Homo sapiens: one gene and its partner. The protein of the gene in region 1 interacts with the protein of each later gene in a pairwise test. Each region holds a gene or a part of one and is shown in the gene's direction. Other genes may lie near its edges. The genes, in order: DEFA6 and SGTB.

The links.
Region 2: the proteins of DEFA6 (region 1) and SGTB interact in binary tests that used the Homo sapiens proteins (3 or more experiments, as listed by UniProt).

Annotation. Positions count from the first base shown.
Region 1 is NC_000008.11:6,924,000-6,927,449, reverse strand, and holds DEFA6 (defensin-6 preproprotein), read left to right. Parts: upstream 1-1,373; 5' UTR 1,374-1,414; coding exon 1,415-1,607; intron 1,608-2,522; coding exon 2,523-2,632; 3' UTR 2,633-2,753; downstream 2,754-3,450. UniProt on the Homo sapiens protein: Host-defense peptide that contributes to intestinal innate immunity and mediates homeostasis at mucosal surfaces by forming higher-order oligomers that capture bacteria and prevent microbial invasion of the epithelium.
Region 2 is NC_000005.10:65,670,110-65,673,936, reverse strand, and holds part of SGTB (small glutamine-rich tetratricopeptide repeat-containing protein beta), read left to right. Parts: intron 1-1,655; coding exon 1,656-1,693; intron 1,694-1,938; coding exon 1,939-2,022; intron 2,023-3,579; coding exon 3,580-3,691; 3' UTR 3,692-3,827. UniProt on the Homo sapiens protein: Co-chaperone that binds directly to HSC70 and HSP70 and regulates their ATPase activity.

The DNA of each region.
Region 1 (3,450 bases):
CGATTCAGCACAATTCCTATCAAAATCCCCATGGCATTCTTTACAGAAATAAAAAAAAAAATCCTAAAATTTGTATGAAATGGTGAAAGAACCCAAATAGACAAAACAATTCTGAGAAAAAAAAACAAAGTTGAAGACATCACAATTCCTGGTTTTAAATTATATTACAAAGCTACGGTAATCAAAACAATATGGTATTGGCATAAAACCAGACACATACCAGTGAAATAAAATTGAGAGTCCAGAAACACATCGAAACACATATGGTCAAGTAACTTTTGACAATGGCATGAAGAAGACACAATAGGGACAGGAGAGTCTCTTCAATAAATGGTGGTGGGAATACTATTTCCATATGCAAAACAATAAAACTGGACCCTTCTCTTTTGGCATATACAAAACTTAACTCAAAATGGATAAAATACCTGAATAGAAGACCAGAAACAAGAGACTATGAAAATAATGGTAGAGTTCTATATGTTTTGAGCTACAAAGTATTCAAATTACAGCATTAGGGAGAAAAAACAAAGCACAAACCAATGTTTAATTTTTAAGTGGAGATTTCCTGGAGCAGAGCTGCAGGGCTGGGGCAAGGATGGAGGCTCATTACTCCTTTTACCCTTTGAATGGTCCTTGTGGGCAATTCAACATTTTCTAAAATTAAAAATAAAATAAAATTTCAGAGGGGGATTGTGGGCATGTCAATTGTTTCGATGTTTCTCAAAGTGGAGAGAAATACCTAGTACATATTTTAGTTGATACATTCAGATCACATGGGTTTCTTGAAATAAATCTTTTGGCTTTAGTTTTACTAACTCTTTACCTAGTATCCCACTGAGTTCTTTTCCCTTATAGGCTGATAAGGTCATTATCTTCTCCACACTGTGCCCCACAAGAGCCTATTCACCCCATAATCTCAAAGCCTCCTTCATGAGGGCAGAAATGCCCCCTGAATCCTGCAATGAATTAACTCTCTACTCTAGCGGGATCCAGCTCTGGCCTCAAGGTCTAGACCTCCAGAGAGTGGCCAGCCCCACCTTCAGAAAATAAGAGGCATTTGATTCCTGAAATTATTCATTGAAAGCACTGTTCTTTTCTTTTTTGAATATTAACAAGTAAATATTCCAGCAGATGGAAAACAGGACAATGTAACACTGTTCTTATCATCACTATCAGCTGGGACCAGAACAGACACTCAATAAACAGCCTCACACTACAATGAAGCTTGGAGAACAAAGGAGCATCAAAGGGACATGGAGGGCAAGGGTAGCTCTTCTGCTCCCCAATCACATGCACTCCCCGTCTCACCGCAACATCTGTCCCTGAGCCTTCTCCCAGCAGACCTATAAATCCAGGCTGGCTCCTCACTCCCCACACATCTGCTCCTGCTCTCTCTCCTCCAGCGACCCTAGCCATGAGAACCCTCACCATCCTCACTGCTGTTCTCCTCGTGGCCCTCCAGGCCAAGGCTGAGCCACTCCAAGCTGAGGATGATCCACTGCAGGCAAAAGCTTATGAGGCTGATGCCCAGGAGCAGCGTGGGGCAAATGACCAGGACTTTGCCGTCTCCTTTGCAGAGGATGCAAGCTCAAGTCTTAGAGCTTTGGGTAAGAGACACCAGCATTGCAGAGCTAGGAGTGTAGAGAGGAAAACCAAGCACTTCTAGAATTAGATCCAACAGCTGGCTCTTTCTCTTAGGTGATCACCTCCCCAGGCCTCAATTACTTTATGTTTGTACTGAAAAGGAAGAATCAGTGATATTCAAGGCATGACTTTTCTCTAAAGATTTTTTAATTCTATGATAAGTCTATGAAATTTTCTAATTTTTTGCCATGTAGAAATGTATTGAGGAGTCTCTACTTCAAGGAAGAGAGCCTAATTTTAAAGGAATGTTTTGTTTTGCTTTGTTTTGTTTTGTTTTGTTTGATGGAGTCTCGCTCTGTCACCCAGGCTGGAGTGCAGTGGCACTATCTCAGATCACTGCAACCTCTGCCTCCTGGGTTCACGCAATTCTCTCCCTCAGCCTCCCAAGTCACTAGGATTACAGGCACCAGACACCAAGCCTGGCTAAATTTTGTATTTTTTTTTTTTTCAGTAGAGACGGGGTTTCACCATCTTGGCCAGGCTAGTCTTGAACTCCTGACCTTGTGATAAACCCACCTTGGCCTCCCAAAGTGCTGGGATTACAGGCGTAAGCCACCACATCCAGCTGCTAAAGGAATGTTTTTTAATCTGACTTTTATAGGAACCGTTGCAAACTGGAGACAGTCATATGGGTGCATTCAGATGTGTGTGTGACAGGGAAGGAGCAGATAAGTACAGCATATCAGAATGGCTCTCTAATCCTGTGTGTGACCAACACTGCTCTGCGTATTTATTCCTATTGATGGTGTGATCATGCTATTGGCTGTAATGCAGCCAGCATTACATGTCAGCAAGCATGCAACTTCCTGAAGATTCTCTTTACTGCCCGCTGCTGACCCTGGTGCTCAATTTCTGATGCTCTCTCTCTCTGTCCCCAGGCTCAACAAGGGCTTTCACTTGCCATTGCAGAAGGTCCTGTTATTCAACAGAATATTCCTATGGGACCTGCACTGTCATGGGTATTAACCACAGATTCTGCTGCCTCTGAGGGATGAGAACAGAGAGAAATATATTCATAATTTACTTTATGACCTAGAAGGAAACTGTCGTGTGTCCTATACATTGCCATCAACTTTGTTTCCTCATCTCAAATAAAGTCCTTTCAGCAAGTTCTTTTGTGTTTGTGCTTTTCTGGTGTTTGATAATTCAGGATTCTTCAGATGCAAAAACAAAAACCCAAGTCGTATCTCAGAACACTAGCTCTTCGAAAGAGTTTTCTATGTAGACCAGAGAAGTGGTAGAGAGGATGTTGAGAGAAGAGAGGATTTGGGTTTTTTGTTTTTTTGTTTTTTGCTTTCTGAGATGGAGTCTCGCTCTGTTGCCCAGGCTGCAGTGCAGTGGCACAATCTTGGCTCACTGAAACCTCTACCTCCTGGGTTCAAGTGATTCTCCTGCCTCAGCCTCCCAAGTAGCTGGGATTACAGGTATCCACCACCACGCCAAGTAATTTTTGTATTTTTAGTAGAGACAGGGTTTCACTATGTTGACCAGGCTGGTCTCGAACTCCTGACCTCAAGTGATCCGCCCACCTCGGCCTCCCAAAGTGCTGGGATTACAGGCATGAGCCACCGCACGTGGCCTTAGGCACTCTGTTTTAATGTTAATGCTGGCCAGCTGTGCCTGAATTCCAATGGGAGGAGGATATCATGAGGTATTCCTGATCCCCACGTCCCATCATGGCCTGAACCAGTGTTTGAGGTTAACACTAGAATGCCTTGGGCTGAGAGGAGGCGTCCATTCAGTTGGCTGGAGGGCTTAGAATTTTAATCTTGGTTTGAATGGGATACAAACATAGGAGGAAGGAAC
Region 2 (3,827 bases), on another chromosome or scaffold:
CACCTGTAATCCCAGCACTTTGGGAGGCTAAGATGGGCGGAGCACTTGAGGTCAGGAGTTCCAGACCAGCCTGGCCAACCTGGCGAAACCCCGTCTCTACTAAAAATACAAAAATTAGCTGGGCATGGTGGTGCATGCCTGTAATCCCAGCTACTTGGGTGGCTGAGGCAGGAGAATCACTTGACTCCGGGAGGCAGAGGTTGCAGTGAGCTGAGGTCATGCCATTGCACTCCAGCCTGGGTGACAGAGTGAAACTTCATCTCAAAAAAAAAAAATAGCCCTATAGGACAGCGGTCCCCAACCTTTTTGTAACAGGGACTGGTTTCATGGAAGACAGTTTTTCCATGGACCATACCGGGTGTAGGGGGTAGGGGCAGGATGGGGAGAGGAGCGTTAGATTCTCTTGAGGAGCACTCAACCTAGGTCCTTCACATGCGCAGTTCACAATAGGGTTCTTGCTCCTATGAGAATCTAATGCTGCAGCTGATCTGACAGGAGGTGGAGCTCAGGCAGTAATGCTTGCTCGCCCACCGCTTACCTGCTGCTGTGCAGCCTGGTTCCTAACAGTCTGTGGCCCAGGGGTTGGGGACCGCTACTATAGGAAACAAAGCAGTCAATGGTGCCTCTTTTCTACTACAACCGGTCAGTCTGTAGCAGGCCCATGCTAGGAAGGGAGAAGTTTTACCTGTAAATGAAGCTTTATGTATTTGATTGTTACACTGAGACATTAATTGCTGAACTGGAGGTCATTTTATAGAACTTAAAGTGACAGGAGGATTGCTTACTGAAAAGTGACTGGAAAAGCATAGATCTGTTCTAAATTTCCTCTAGGTCCTAGATTGTGGGAGAAGGGGAAGAACTACTGCTGCAGAACTAGTTTAAAGGGATTGCAAAACACAGCATTTCATGTTTATAGCTCATACATCCTGCTTTTCCTGTGTAATGCCTTTAGCACTTATGGGTTGGCTCAGAGGCACCAATCCTGACTGGGACTTGAGGAAAGTTTTGAATTACTTACGAATCAGTCAGTGATCTTTCTGGTAATATAAGCAAGTGGTGGCTTTTCCCAACACCTCATAGAGAGTCTGTGAATATAATCTATTGTCTACAAAGATTTAGACTAAATTCAAATTTTACATAAATATTGTCGACATTACCAATTTGAGGGAAAAAATGTGATGCTTTCAAAATAGAATGTTTTAAAAGTATGTGTGCACATAAATATAATTCCTTGTGCCACTGTAAGCATGGGAAGGATTGAAATTGCTGGGCCCCATGGAGCAAAGTCACATCTCTTAAAAGCTCGTTTGGAATGGACCTTCTCAAGTGTAGGAGATCCCTTAACCATACTTTTAAAGTTCCTATTTTTCCTTTTGGCTTAATTGGTCTGATAGCAGTAGTAAGTAAACTGCTGTCAACATCCTCAGTTTATAGTGTTGTTTGTAATCTCTTTATCCTCACCATGTCTTCTTAATGCCACTTTTTCTAGTACCTTCTCTCTTTTTACATTCCCCTTTACTTTGCATAGCACACTGAAACTCTACAAAATGTTAGTGCATACATGATTTAGCTTTCATTCTTCTAAAAAAAAAATCTTTGCTAAGATCCCTACATATTAACTGCCTTTAATGGGAGGTGCTGTTTTTCAATTCCAGGCGGCAAGTTTAATGCAGAACCCTCAAGTTCAACAGCTGTAAGTATATAGAAAGAGCTTATTACACTTCCCCAACCCTTCCACTTGCCAGGCTCCTAATTTGAGCACATCAGCTCAAAAATGATGAAACTGTTCTGAATGACAGTCAGTTGGAGCTTAAAGCCACACACATTTGGCCTAGCCTCTGGTATAACATGGGTATTTTATTAACTTTTCCTCGTCCAGTTGTCCTATTTGTTAAGAATATATACCAATCCCAGTGATGTATTTCTTGTGTACTCTAGAATGTCAGGAATGATGACAAATGCCATTGGGGGACCTGCTGCTGGAGTTGGGGGCCTAACTGACCTGTCAAGCCTCATCCAAGCGTAAGTATTATTTAAAACAGAAATAGTGAAGATGTATTTTATGTTTTACAGCCTATCTCTATGGTGAGGGGTCAGGGCTTTCTTTTTAAATGTTTATCTTTTACCGTTAGTAACTTTAGCCTCCTTAATGTTACTAAATCTGAAAGAAGTTCATGAATTACAACCACTTTTTAGACTGCAGGGCAGGAATCCATACCTAGATAGTCTGGCCAGCCCTGTCTGTTGAGAAAAAGAACCATGTTTATTATGCTTCCCCCCACCCCCACCCCCGCCCCCGGTTCATTATGCTTTATTTTTTGGGACTTTCAAGTACCAGCAGAATCTTTTTCTTCTTTTCTTTTTTGGCACCATCTCAATAAGGCAGGTGAGGGACAGATATTAGAAAAGTAGATAATTTATATCCCTACCCAATGGCTAGAGAAACTGAGGTACAGGTTAGTGACTTACTAAGGAACCCATAGCACATTCAGTCTTTTCATTTGCAGCCTAATTTTACTTGATTGTGTTGTCAGCATGAAATTAGGGTCCTTGGTTTTTAAGTGGGGGTATCAATACTGTATCTCTGCTTACAGAGGGTCCCAAGGATTGGTGACCTGGTACTTTGAGGGTATGGAGACAAACAGTAAAAATCATATGTCCAAATAAATTGTGATCTCATATATATATAAAGCTATTAATCCCCCATTTTTTCCCAATGAAGATCCAGGAAGTTTTTCAGCAGACTTCAAACTACTCAGGGACACAGATGAAGGTCAAATATCCTCTTAAAATATATATCAATTTAGGTACACATACATAGTTTAAAATCACTTGTTACATACTTTAATGTTCAGGCAATTCAGGAAATTTTTATTCAAACTTTTTCAGTGCCTGTCAACACTTAGAGGAACTACTTGCATCTTCTCATTACTTGAGCACATTGCCTTCACTTATATCAAATTGGCGAAGACAACTTTGCTTTTTGAATCTGTGTCTGATGCTCTCGCTGGACATTTTATATGAAGCCACAGTACCACTTGTTGTTTGTCAGCACAACTGTGTATCCACTTAGAATATTGCATTTTTAGAATGACCTTTAAATGGCATATAATGACATCTAACACTGGCAATAGAGGGTCACATACTACAATTTGTGTTAAACTTCTTAGTGTTTTTAAAATTACTTGTTAGGTGACCTCCAAAAGCATCCCAAACTGGGTGTTATATGAGACTATTAAGACTTGGGTATAAAAGCATTGTATTTGAGCACATACAATAAAAACATATACGTCTTACCCTTTGCTTCTTTGTCATTAGCACTAGAGAAGTAGATTTCACCCAGTTGAGGTACTTATTTTTTTTAGCATGGGTGTTTTGTTTCTTATAAAGAACACTGCATTGTAATAATGCTATATGGAGGCATTGGTAAACTTGTAGATTCTAAAGTCATGGCTCTGAAACTTGTTTTTATAGAAAAAAGCCCCCTTTAGGTAGCTCCTACATTTTCTGCATTTCTTTTTGCGTGGGTAAATGTGACTGGCAATTCCCTATTCAAACCACATTGCCTCTTTACTACAGGGGACAGCAGTTTGCTCAGCAGATACAGCAACAAAATCCTGAACTTATAGAGCAACTGAGAAATCACATCCGGAGCAGATCATTCAGCAGCAGCGCTGAAGAGCATTCCTGATTTAACCAGGGGCTCAAGCCCAAGATACAAATGGTTTATGGCTATGAATGAAGTATTTGTTGTAGATAGTACCCCCTCCCTCCTTCAAAAAACCAAACACCATATCTGATGTGTGAAAATAATGGAGGAAAACCTC